Homo sapiens: one gene and its partner. The protein of the gene in region 1 interacts with the protein of each later gene in a pairwise test. Each region holds a gene or a part of one and is shown on either strand. Other genes may lie near its edges.

Region 1 (7,027 bases):
AGATACAAAAAATTAGCCGGGCATGGTGGCGCGCACCTGTAATCCCAGCTACTCGGGAGGCTGAGGCAGGAAAATTGCTTGAACCCAGGAGGCAGAGGTTGCAATGAGACAAGATCATGCCATTGCACTCCAGCCTGGCTCTGTCTCAACAAAAAAAAAAAAAAGAAGAAGAAAGGAAAAGAAAATTGAAGTCCTTTGGCAGTATGGTTTCGGTGGAAAGGCATTCATTATCTGATGATTTTTAAATCTGTTTGTTTATTTATTTATTTATTTGAGACGGGGTCTCACACTGTTGTCCAGGCTGGAGTGCAATCACATGATCTTGGCTCACTGGAACCTTCACCTCCTGGATTCAAGCGATCCTGCTGCTTCAGCTTCCCAAGTAGCTGGGATTACAGGCATGAGCCACCACACCTGGCTAAATTTTTTTTTTTTTTTTGAGACGCAGTTTCACTCTTATTGCCCAGGGTGGAGTGCAATGGTGCAATCTCAGCTCACCGCAACCTCCGCCTCCCGGGTTCAAGCAGTTCTTCTGCCTCAGCCTCCCGAGTACCTGGGATTACAGGCATGCACCAGCATGCCCAGCTAATTTTGTGTTTTTGGTGGAGATGGGATTTCTCCACGTTGGTCAGGCTGGTCTCGAACTCCTGAACTTAGGTGATCTGCCCGTTTCGGCCTCCCAAAGTGTTAGGATTACAGGCGTGAGCCACCGCTCCCGGCCCTGGCTAATTTTTTGTATTTTTAGTAGAGACGGGGTTTCACAATGTTGGCCAGGCTGGTCTCAAGCTCCTAACCTCAAGTGATCCACCTGCCTTGGCCTCCCAAAGGGCTGGGATTACAGGCGTGAGCCACTGCACCTGGCCCATAAATCTGTTTATTTTGCCCATAGGTTACATATAATTTTCATAACCACTAGTTGAGGTCTGCCAAACATGTAAATCAGAACTCATAATGCCTTACTTTAAGCCAATTATTACCCTATGTACCTCTACCTCTTGCTATTTATTCCTTCTAACATTTATTGAAAATCTGCTATATACCATGCTTTTGCTACTACATTATGTGCAGTACTTCTGGTAAAAGCCCCTATCTGATTATTTTTCACTTTCTTTTTTTTTTTTAAGTACAGGGTCTTGCTCTTTTGCCTAGGCTGGAGTGCATTGGCGCAGTCCCTGCTTACTGTAGCCTTGACCTCCAGCTCATGTGATCCTCCTACCTCAAACTCCTGAGTAGCCTATAGTCCCAGCCAATCAGGAGGTACACGCCACACGCCACCATGCCTGGCTAACTTTTATTTGTTTTTTTTGTACAGACAGGGTCTCACCATGTTGCCCAGGCTGGTCTTGAACTCCTGGGCTCAATCAGTTTACCTACCTCAGCCTCCCAAAGTGCTGGGATTACAGGCATCAGCCACCACACCCAATCTGATTATCTTTTTAACCAGACAAAACAATAGTACTCTATAAGAATCGTAAAATTTTATTATTAAAAATAGCAGCCGGGCATGGTGGATCACGCCTGTAATTCCAGCACTTTGGGAGGCCGAGGCAGGCAGATCACTTGAGGTCAGGAGTTTGAGACCAGCCTGGCCAACATGGTAAAACCCCGTCTCTACTATAAATACAAAAATTAGCTGGGCGTGGTGGCAGGCGCCTGTAAACCCAGCTACTTGGGAGGCTGAGGCAGGAGAATTGCTTGACCCTGGGAGGCAGAGGTTGCAGTGAGCCAAGATTGCACCACTGCACTCCAGCCTGGGTGACAGAGTGAGACTCCATCTCTAAAAAAACAAAAAAAGAAAAAAGAAAAAAAATCTAGTCCTTCCTTTACATTTATTTTACACATAAGGAAAGCCCAGAAGGGTTAAGTGAACTGTTCCAGGTCACACAACTTGTTAATATGTAATGATGGCTTATTGTGAATTATAGTCAATATCTTCTCTTCCATGAGTCCCCTTTTCATTATAACATTCCATCTTATAGAATAATAGATTTTTGCCAGGCACGGTGGCTCACACCTGTAATCCCAGCACTTTGGGAGGCTTAGGCAGGAAGATCACTTGAGCCCAGGAGTTCAAGACCAGCCTAGGCAACATAGCAAGACCCCATATCTATCAAAAATTTAAAAGATTAGCTAGGCATGGCTTCCTTAATCCTACCTATTCAGAAGGCTGAGGCAGGAGGATTGCTTGAGCCCAGGAGTTCAATGCTGTGGTGAACTATGTTCACACCACTGTACTCCAGCCTGGATGGCAGAGGGAGACCCTGTCTCTTAAAAAAAAAGAGATATCTTTCTATTATGGATCCTATTTCTTAAAAGTTAACTTAGTCCATTTCATAATACACTTGCCACATTTTAAAATTCTATTGAAGCCGGGCGCGGTGGCTCACACCTGTAATCCCAGCACTTTAGGAGGCTGAGGCGGGTGGATCACGAGGTTAGGAGATCCAGACCATCCTGGCTAACACAGTGAAACCCCATCTCTACTAAAAATACAAAAAATTAGCTGGGTGTGGTGGCAGGCGCCTGTAGTCCCAGCTACTCGAGAGACTGAGGCAGGAGAATGGCGTGAACCCGGGAGACAGAGCTTGCAGTGAGCCCAGATAGCGCCACTGCACTCCATCCAGCCTGGGTGACAGAGCAAGACTCCGTCTCAAAAAAAAAATTAAAAAAAAATAAAATTCTATTGAAAATGGTTTTGGTTGGTTTGTTTTATTTTGTTTTTGAGACAGAGTCTCACATTGTCGCCCAGGCTGTAGTGCAGTGTTGTGGTTTCAGCTCACTGCAACCTCCGCCTTCTACGTTCAAGCGATTCTCCTGCCTCAGCCTCCCAAGTAGCTGGGACTACACGCACACACCACCACGCCTGGCTAATTTTTTGTATTTTTAGTAGAAACGGGGTTTTGCCATGTTGCCCAGGCTGGTCCCAAACTCCTGAGCTCAGATAATCTACCCACGTCAGCCTCCCTAAGTGCTAGGATTACAGGCATGAGCCACTGCGTCCTGCCAAATGTTTTAAACTCATATCCAGTCATCTTACAGGGTTGGCTCCATAAAGGAAACAGTTTAATTTTCCTTAGAATTAGCATATTCTGGCTGGGTATGGTAGCTCACACCTGTAATCCCAGCACTTTGGGAAGCTAAGGTAGGCGGATTGCTTGAGCCCAGAAGTTTGAGACCAGCCTGGGCAACATAACAAGACCCTGTCTCTACAAAAAAAATACAAAAATTAGCCAGGCGTGGAGGTGCATGCCTGTAGTACCAGCTGCTTGGGAGGCTGAGGTGGGAGGATTGCTTGAGCCCAGGAGGTTGAGGCTGGCTATCATAGCACCACTACGCTCCAGCCTGGGTGACAGAGCAAGACCCTGTCTCAAAAAAAAAAAAATTATATTCTACAGTGGCATACCTGTAGTCTCAGTTACTCTGGGGACCAGCTGGGACTAGCTAGTCAGACTTTATCTCTTAAAAATAAAAGAATTATTATTATATTCCAGCCAGAGTTAAGTATGGACCTTGTCCCCTGACCTGTTAATAGAGATGTAAAGCTTCAGTTAATCTGACACCCAGAGGGTATCTCTATTGTTCTAGATGTAGTGATTGTTGGGCTAGGTGTCATGGCACGCACCTATATTCCCAGCTATTTGGGAGGCTAGGGCAGGAGGATTACTTGAGCCCAGGAGTGAGGCTGCAGTGAGCTATGATCATACAACTGCACTCCAACCTTGGCAACAGAGCAAGACTCTGTCTCTAAAAACAATAAATAAAAATAAAAAGATACAGTGATAGGTCTAGTGAAGACTCATATTCCATTGATGTTATCTTCCTTTTTTTTTTCTTTCTTCAGGATCTACAGTCTTTGCAGAAATTCAGGGGGTCATTGATGCTTGCATTAAACTATCTGGAATGCCTGATCTCTCCCTTTCTTTCATGGTAAGTTTTATTCTCCTGTTTTATAGCCCCTTGAATGCCTAATACATGTGAAGTACTAAATGAAATGATAAATATTGAGATAAGTTTGCATCTTAGATTGCAAAGGATTATCTCAGAAATATTCCTAGCAGAGTTTCCTAAGACAGTCGCTTACATGATGAGCGTGGTCTTTGTGGAAAGACTAAGGGAGGTCTTTGCCTGAGTGTGCTAGAAGGGGCTTAAAATTGGCTGGCTGGCTTCTGCAAATATCCAGTATCATTTTTACTGAATAATTATTTGCTTTGCTGATATGAAAGGACACTGGTCTTTTGTATCATTTTAGAGTCAGCATGATATACTGCTAGGAACAATTAAGAGAACTGACTTCTGGTGTTGTCACCAGTTTGCTCTGACCTTAAGTCCTCTGAACCTCAGTTTTTTAATCTGTTAAAGGGAAATAATACTACTTGCCTTTTCTCCTTTATAGTTATTGAAATTCAAATAAAATAATGTACATAAAATATTTACAAACTTTAAAGCATTATGAAACTATAAGGTTGTGTAGATGTGGTCATAAACTCTTCCATGACTGCTTTATCTTCAGGGAACATATTTGTCAAGGTATCTGAGTACAGTTCCCATATTCATTATAGTCTATGAACGACTGTCTTCTGTTTTTCTGGCAGAACCCTAGGCTTCTGGATGATGTCAGCTTTCACCCCTGCATCCGGTTCAAGCGTTGGGAATCTGAAAGAGTTTTGTCATTTATTCCTCCAGATGGAAATTTCCGACTCATATCATACCGTGTCAGCTCACAAAAGTATGTTGATGCATCAGCCAGAATCTGCCATCATACATATCAAGTACAACTCACCTTTCCCTGTTTCTTTCTGAAAGTTGAGTACTTGAGGTCATCACTGCTCACTTTAACCATAGCTCACCAGGAGACCCAGTGAGAACGGGTGAAAATACGCACCTAAAATAATCCGTATACTTTGAATGTATGAGTGTAGAGTGGTACTAAGTGAGACTAGAGTAAAATCTATAGCCAAGAACAAGCAAACCATACATAACCTGGGCAAAAATTGTGGTACCGGTCCTTTGCAAGGTTATGCATGGTCAAATTATGGCACTGGTTCTTTGCTCAGGTTATGCATGGTCCATTTTGCTCTGCTTCTGAAAGCTGAGTACTTTGCAAGCAGAGCAAAACGGACCATGCATAACCTGGGCAAAACCATGAACCATTGCCATAATCTTACCATAGTCTGTAGAGTTTGTGGCCAACAAGGAGACAGACCTACCTGTAGTTCGTGAGGACATTCCCCAATTTACCTGCTTCAAGTACGTCTTCTCTGCGTTGAGTTTTTAAGGAACTGTTTAGCATTGAGGGGCCGGGTGCAGTGGTTCACTCCTGTAATCCCAACACTTTGGGAGGCCAATGTGGGCAGATCACTTGGGGTCAAGAGTTCTAGACCAGTCTGGTCAACATGGTGAAACCCTGTCTCTACTAAAAACACAAAATTAGCCAGGCGTGGTAGCGTGTGCCTATATAATCTCAACTACTTAGGAGGCTGAGGCATGAGAATCACTTGAACCTGGAAGGCAGAGGTTGCAGTGACAGATCACACCACTGCACTACAGCCTGGCCAACAGGGTAAAACTCCATCTCAAAAAAAAAAAAAATTTAGCATTGGGGATCGGAGTTATAGGTAGTTTGTTTCTTGAAAATACCAAAAGTTATTTGAGTAACATCATGACAGAACTCAAAAACAGAGAAATTATTTCTCGGCTCTTTTCTTTTCCTTTTTTTTTTTTTTTTTTTTTTTTAAGCCGGAGTTTGGCTCTTGTTGCTCAGGCTGGAGTGCAATGGTGAAATCTCGGCTTACTGCAACCTCCACCTCCAGGGTTCAAGTGATTCTCCTGCCTCGGCCTCCCAAGTAGCTGGGATTACAGGCATGCACCACCACACCCGGCTAATTTTGTGTTTTTAGTAGAGGCGGGGTTATTCCATGTTGGTCAGACTGGTCTCGAACTCCAGACCTCAGGTGATCTGCCCACCTCAGCCTCCCAAAGTGCTGGGATTACAGGCGTGAGCCACCGTGCCTGGCCTGTTTCTTGGCTCTTATCACATAGGAACTGTTTTCATTTATATAAAACATATTTTACATTATTTTTCAGTGGGATCATAATTCATTTTAAACTAGGGCCATTTGCCCCAATTGTTTTTGTTTGTTTGTTTTATGTTATTTTGTTTTGTTTGTTTGTTTTGAGACGGAGTTTCACTATTGTCACCCAGGCTGGAGTGCAATGGTGTGATCTTGGCTCACTGCAACCTCTACCTCCTGGGTTCAAGCGATTCTCCTGCCTCAGCCTCCCAAGTAGCTGGGATTACAGGCACCTGCCACCGCGCCCAGCTAATTTTTGTTTTTTGTTATTTTTTTTTTTTATTAGAGAGGGGATTTCACCATGTTGGCCAGGCTGGTCTCAAACTCCTGACCTCCAGTGATCTGCCTGCCTTGGCCTCCCAAAGTGCTGGGATTACAGGTGTGAGCCACTGCACCCAGCCACCCCAATTGTTTATACTGTTATTAAACTTCAGATTTCTGTCTTGATTTGTATACAGTTCCCAGCACAGTGGTACAAGAACATTATGCTGTACTCAGCTCCCCCTTGTGTAGATACTGAATCTGCAGTTCTAGAGGTACTGCCATCTTGGTATCCTTGGAGGACTGGTTGCAAAAATCAGCAGATGCTCGAGTCCCTTACATAAAATGGTGTAGTATTTGCATATAACCTATGCACATCCTCCTGTATACTTTAAATCATCTCCAAGTTACTTGTGATAGTACACTGTAAACACTGTGTAAATAATTGTTATACCATGTTGACTTTTTATTTTTATTGTAGTTATATTGTTATTTTTTACTTTTTTTTTTTTTTTTTTTTTTTTTTTTTTTGAGATGGCGTCTCGCTCCTTTGCCCAGGCTGGAGTGCAGTGGCACGATCTCAGCTCACTGCAATCTCCGCTTCCCAGGTTCAAGCGATTCTCCTGCCTCAGGCTTCCAAATAGCTGGGACTACAGGCATGAGCCACCACACCCAGCTAATTTTTGTATTTTTAG
Region 2 (7,027 bases), on another chromosome or scaffold:
TACCAGCTAAACCATAAACTGTAGAAAATAAACTACAATGAGCATAAGGGGAAAAAAAAACCTCCACAATTAAAAATTCACTTTAAAATTCAGCCACATCCTTTAAGTGCTCATCTGTAATAAGTATATATAGTGTATAAAGTTCAAAATAGAAATGAAATTACTAAGTAAATATTTTCATTATGAGATTTCCCAATAAACACAATGAGTATGCAGAGATCTTTTTAAGCTTAGTGCCAGCTTTCCCATGAACATGGGATGAAATATTTTTAAAACATGTGTCCTCACCTGGCATTATAAATATAAGACACAGCCTATTTCTACTATTTAGGCTGTTTCTTTCCAACTAGTATATTTTTACATCAAGAAAAACACATATAGCATAAGCTTTAAGAGGAGAAACTAATCCATCATTATATGAGTTTTGGTCAATTTCGCTTTCAAGGATGTACAGATTGCTTTCCAAAATAAGGCTATGCTCATAAAAATGCTGGTTTTCAAGTATACGGTATATATTGGTGGGAAAGGGGCACAAAACGGGTTTTTTTTCCAGAATGTTCCCTTGTCCTTTGTCTACCTTATTTCCCGTTTATGAGCAGCTCCTAAATGAAGCAGATTTAATGGCTGCCGCTGAATTTCTCCAAAGAATAAAAACTGTGAATCAGCCAATATCTTTTCCCCCACTTCATTATGTTACATTTTTACTAAAAATCTTTTTAGCAGATAAGAGTCATTTTCTATGCAATTCAGAAGCGCCATACTTTAAGTAAACTTGAAAATTAAGTTTTACACAGAAGATAAATTGGGGATATCTACTTCAACAAAAGATTCTTATTTCTTAATAGGATTCTTTAAAATAGCAAGCTTCCCCAGCAAATAAGGCAAAAAGCAATTAATGGTTATTGAGCACTCACTAATGTGCCAGGTATTCCACCTCATTATTTCAGATTCATTATCTCACCAAAGCCTCCCAACCTTGTGAAGCATATTGTATCATCCCCACTTAATAGACAGCTCAGGATTATAGTTGCCTAGGATCCCAGCTATAGCGAGTAGTGACATAGGGTTTCTAATTGACATCTGATTCCAAAGCCACACTCTTACTCTTTCCAACATATCATTCATACTTCTAATACATTTTAAAATATAAACTAATTATCAAAACTGTCATTTATTTGCATTTTCTTGTGTCAATTGAGGTGTCACAAATAAAATCTCTTCAGGCTAAAAAAAAATTACAACTCAGTCCTTTAGGAATTTAGCCAAACAGATCTTATGGAACTCAATTATGCCTTTCAAGGAAGATGGGGCATTAATAATGCATCTCTTGGGCATAGAAGAGAGATAGAAAAAACATCAGTTGGTCCCTTAAGTTTTCTGAACCAGCTAACAAGATTACTGAGCAATACATCCAAACTAAAGCCCAGTTTCCAATGGTCTAGCTATGCTAATCCTACCACAAAAGGCAAAGTAGAGATAACAAGCATAATACTATCAATGGTAATGGTAACAGCAGCCAACTTAACATCATGCTTAACATGTGCTGGGCACTGTTTTAAGCAGTTTTTCATCCAACAATTCCTTTAGTATTCAGCAATCCTAAAAAGCAGGTATGTTGCTGTCCCCTTTAACTATGGGGAAACTGAAGTACAGAGCGGTTAAGTAAGTAACTTGCCTGAGGTCACATAGTAAGAGGCCAAACTGAGATTCAATCCTAGGCAGTTAGGCTCAACTTACAGTGCTCTTAACCACTTCATCCATTTGGTTTGAGAATACACCTTTGAATACTTAAGTGGGTATTCAGGAGTTCTTGCCAACAAAGTGGCACTTATGGAATAGTGAAAGGGGTTAGGAGGAGGAGGGGAAGAGAAGACAAGATGATATAGAGTACTGTGAGTGATTCCCTGCAGAGCATGGCCCCAGTTGTTATTTGGGTGTGTGACCTCTGCCCCAGAAAGGAAAAACGAGGCTAGAGATACACGGGACACAAAGGAGAGTAACTTCCGAGAGTGAGGAACGTGTGGAATACAGTGCCTTAGGCTCACAGCCTATGTTATCAAGAAGGCCTTGACTAAATCCTGGCTTTGCCATTTAGTTTTGTGATCTTAGGTGATTCATTTAATCTCTTTAAGCCTCAGTTTCCTGGACTGTAAAATAAAGATTAAAGTACCTTTCATATAAAGTTATGAGGATTAAAAAAAACACATATAAAGTGTGCCCAGTAAACACAGGACTCCATAAACATTACCTGTTGTGGTAATGTTCTTGTAACTGACGGATACAACGCAGGTATAGCTTCACTTTGAGGAATATTAAAAATTACTTATCAAAGAAGTTGCAAATGCTATTCCCCAAAGCAGAAAAGCAGATTTGGGGAGGAGAGAAATAACAATGCCATAATCACTAAAAAAGTCAGATTAACATCTTATAGCCAATTGTCATCTCACTATTAGAACCATTAAAAAATACTCCACCCCGCTTCCAGGCCAGAGTAAAAGCACCATGGCCTCCAAGACTGACGTGCGATAACAAAAAGCAGTTCAATGAAACTCTTTTAAAAGCATGTAAAAAATGAAATAAGTTTTAATGGAAATGAAATCCTTCGGTTTTCCTTCTCAATCCTATTGAGAAGATGTTTTTTTCTCAGAAGCTGAAGACTTAGTTGCCGTTTCATACCTTATACAATCTGTAGTAATGAACAGCGACGTCATCCAGTCGGACAGCCTCTTTGATATATTTAAGATGAGCTTCGGAAGCTGTTAGTGCAAACTGATCTTTGTGCATGTTTGGAATGTGCTTCAGGATGTAGTCCTTCCCCCTCTTGGAAACAACCTGTTGGGATACAAGGGGTGTGCAATGCAACATTTGTTGGAGAGATGTAAGTTCTACCCCCACCCCCAAAATGATGAAAGAATGAGAAGCTAAAATAGGCCATGTAAACTGGTTGGTTTGCATTGAAAATTCATTCTGTTTTCACCATCTGTTATGTTACTAGGCTAAATCAGCTAATACTAGAAGCTATAGAGTCAATTTAGTTGTACTGCTGAATACCTAAGAAGAAAAATCACAACAAATAGGAAAAATAAGTTATCTTTGCTTTAAAGTCACCAAGAGAAAAACACTACACAAACTTTCATAATTTTGTACACATAATTGTTTATACTTGCAAGTTTATACTTGGTACCATGAAATACATCTATAGTAGGCACATCTTCAGGTTCTGGATCCTACCTAACTCTTAAGAAAATTTCAGCCACAGACTGGGAGGTTCTAAATGTTAATCAAAAGAAGGCAGGGTACTGGGAGAAATTCTCTAAAACATTTTTGGTTCTTGCATAAGAGGCTGATATGAACACTGCTGGAATACTTATGAGAAAACCGTTTCATTCAAACACTCATTGTGATTCACTGTGACTTAGATTTTCATCAGACAGTACTCTGGGCTTTCAGATGTCAAATATATAGTATCCAGCAGCTGCAGGCTAAGAGAAAGGTGTTGATTAAAGTCTTAGCTGATTCCATAAGGAACTTAACAGATGGAAAGAATTATGCAATGTGAGCAAGAGTCGTGCTTAAAATAATCAAAATTTAAAAATTACAGACTTTTTGGTTTTAAAATGTCTTTATATTGACATTTTGTTTCTTCCTATTGAATATTTTACAGAGAATTAAATATGATGAATTAATAGTCAGTTGTCAAGTTCTGCTAAGAACTCAAGTTACACAGATTTTTCTTTCCAGGTTCTTTTCACATGGTAATCAGTTAAATCAGTTATTTATCAACCTTTTTTTCAGGTCAAAAGCACACTGAAAACAGTATTTGTAAGGGCACTAAAGCAGATGGCTTTGGTGATCCCAAGGGTGGGGGAAACTGATATCTCAGCACACTGGTTGCCCTGGCATACTAACTGGATTTCAATAATCAATATTCAATGAGCACCTGATGACAACCAGAGAATGCAAACATGCTACAGACAGCAATAGTTTGACAGACATTGTGATTTCTCTCCAAAAAAATGAAGCACTCTAAGTCACACAACAAAAAATTACTGAGTACCTCAATATGAAGAGCTGATGAAATAGAAAAGGTTAAGGTTATGCCCGTCTTTCAGAACACACTAAGAAACAGTTTACTGGGAGCAAGAAATAAATCATTTTAAAATAAGATGTAAAACACTATTCCCAGGTTCTTCTTGAGCACTGGGCACCTAGATGGTCTGCCCAGAAGGAGCGACACCTGGGCTGAGTCTCGGAGGATGAGTAGGAGTTAGCCAGGTGAAACAGAGAGGGGCTTCACTGGCTAAAGGAACTGCAAGAAGAAAGACCTGAAGCATGAAACACCACAGTAAGTATGGAGACACACCAATGGCTGGATGTTGCCAGAGCCTAAAGTTCAAGGTGCAGGACAACCAGAAAGGAAGCTGGAATGGCTGGCAGGGACTATAATCTGGAGAGTTTCTAGGTTATGCATGGGAGCCTGAGCTTCACTCCACAGGTGACAGAGGAGGCCCTGAAAGTTTAAGTCAGAAGCAAAATCATCTCATCTGCAAGCTGTGGAGTAAAGACCGAAGCAGGGACAAGTTTCTGCAACAGTGCTGCTGAGAACACGAACCTAGAAACAGCAGGAGCTAAGACAGGGAGAGGAGGCAATGGACATTTAGGAAGGCTAATGGCAATAAAAATAGAAGATAATTTTATTTCTTAAGCTGGGTGATTGGTATTCAAGCACAGACATTACAAGGTGTTACAGTTGATGGGACAGGACAGGGAGAAGGAATGGTGATAAGGCAGAGTTCCGTATGACTCCCACGTACTCAGAGGTAGGAATACGTAGAAATGAGGTGGCAAGAAAATGAATTTGATTTAGGACATCTTGAGTTTGAACGGCCTATGGGTAAACAGCTACCTTATGGATATAGGGGAAAAAACCAGATTTGGGACTTGCCTTCACATAGGTGATCGTTAAAAGCATTAATTTGGATGAGATCTCCCAAGATGTGAGTAGTTAAGTGTCAGGTACAGCAGCAAAATTTAGTGAAAAGAGTCTGCTGGATATGTTAATATAAAGCAACTGGTGTCAATATAAAGCAAAAGTAGTGCATATTTAATTTTTTACTTCTTTACTGTATTGATATAAAGCAACCTAACAGGCAGCACCATGAGTGGACTGATGGGGAAAGAAGGCAGATGGAAATGGCTTGAGGAACACTTGTGGGAAGTAAAGAAGCTGAAAAAATCAAATACACACTACCTCTTCAAGATGCTTTACTGAGAAGGAAAGGCAAGAGTAGTAGCTCTTCTTTCCCTCCCCACTTTCTTTCTCAAGGATGGGTGGGTGAGAACCAAACATGTTTTGCATGTTCTCACTGAAGAAGAGTTACTTTGGGGAGGGGCTAATGATATAGAAGAGAGACAGAAAATACAGCCTAGACATGGAGGAAGGACGGGAAGAGAAACAGACAGGGTGGAGTGGAGAAAGCGCAGCTGAGACAGTTCACGTTGGAATAACCCACATTTTCTTGCTGAAAGAAGGGGTTAGTTCCTCCCCGAGAGTGGAGGACATGGAGGCCGGAGCCAGAAGTTGACATACTTGTTCTCGCAGCAAAGGAAAGCGAGGAATAATCTTACTTTTTAAAGAGTTATGTTTTTCTGCCTTCAAAGGGAGAAAATACTGCTTCGGTAAGAGTAGGCAAGAAGGTCAAGGGCATGTCAATGCTGAAAGGAGGCTGGTAAATTCCAAGCTCCACTGTATTATCAGGATGGATGGCAATTCTCTACCCCACTCACCATAAGCAGACTAAGTACATGAAGACATGATGTGCACCACGTTCTTAAGCATTAAATATCTGGGCATCACAAAGAATTTGGCCACAGAACATCTGTGTTCCCATTTCTTAAAGAGTATGAGTAGCAACACTACGAACTAGAAATGCCCGAGAGAAAACACTCTTTCGAATTTGAAAACAGTGCTTACCCAAGATGGGAAGTAAGCCTCTGGCTCGAAGTATTTTCCATAGTGCTTATTCCTTTTGAAGTTCCCAAGATCAGCCTGCAGGGCAAAGGCTGCCAGCAGGAAGTAGGCCTCCTCTCGGAGCACACACTGAGAATGAAGAACTTGTTTTCTCAGGTGCCAGTAATAATAGTATCTTGCTGCTCTGTCACTAGAAAAATAAAAGAAAACAGAACTCACATTTTGATGGAATAATCCAATGACATGTAAACAGAACCCAAATCCTTCTCTCCATCTGGTGACAGGAACCCTTCTGTTTCTGCTCCTCCCTCCCACCTCACTGAAAAGGAAGCGGTTGTAGCTAATATCTGATAGCTGCCTCACTGAGGTTGCAGGGGGTCAGAACCCCAAATCAGACTATCCAGACAATAAAAATAACGTTTCCTAAGGCTTACAGCATTTGATTCATTCAGAGAAGAAAAAGGTCTGAATCATTCCACTCTAAAATGGTAAATATTTCACTGAACAAGTATTAGAATAGAAACTAGACATGTGTTGTCTGTACTAATGTTGCTACAATGATGCTACACACGTGACATAAATAAGGAAAAATCTGAGGAGCAATCCTGCTTCAGTGTTTTGCTGTTCTTTTTATTATTTTTTAACTGAACACACTACAAATACTCTAAGGCCCTTTATAAGTATTTGCATATATACTCTTCTGGAAAAAAATTTGCTTAACAAAGGTTTCTTTTCCGTTTTTTAAACTTCTCCAAGAAGAAATGCAATGAATGCTTTCCTTAAATCTTTTTTTGGGGATTTTTTTGAAGTGAATGTTACATTACTGTTATGTTTTTACAGGCACATGTCACGACAATTATTATACTCCCCACAAAAGGAAATACTAACAGAGCACTCATTACAATCTCTTGAGATCAGAAATAAATACAGTCATCATTAAATACGTTAAGAAATGCTGACTGGGGAAAACATGGTAAAAGCTCCAAAAAATATTTACTGGCAAATAGGATGCTTTTGTGATCAAAGTAAAAATGTGTGTGTACATATTTTAATGAG

What was found.
Region 2: the proteins of AP3M1 (region 1) and FRMD6 interact in binary tests that used the Homo sapiens proteins (3 or more experiments, as listed by UniProt).

The regions. Positions count from the first base shown.
Region 1 is NC_000010.11:74,126,807-74,133,833, reverse strand, and holds part of AP3M1 (AP-3 complex subunit mu-1), read left to right. Parts: intron 1-3,841; coding exon 3,842-3,927; intron 3,928-4,592; coding exon 4,593-4,726; intron 4,727-7,027. UniProt on the Homo sapiens protein: Part of the AP-3 complex, an adaptor-related complex which is not clathrin-associated. The complex is associated with the Golgi region as well as more peripheral structures.
Region 2 is NC_000014.9:51,703,883-51,710,909, reverse strand, and holds part of FRMD6 (FERM domain-containing protein 6), read right to left. Parts: intron 6,162-7,027; coding exon 5,975-6,161; intron 2,833-5,974; coding exon 2,677-2,832; intron 1-2,676.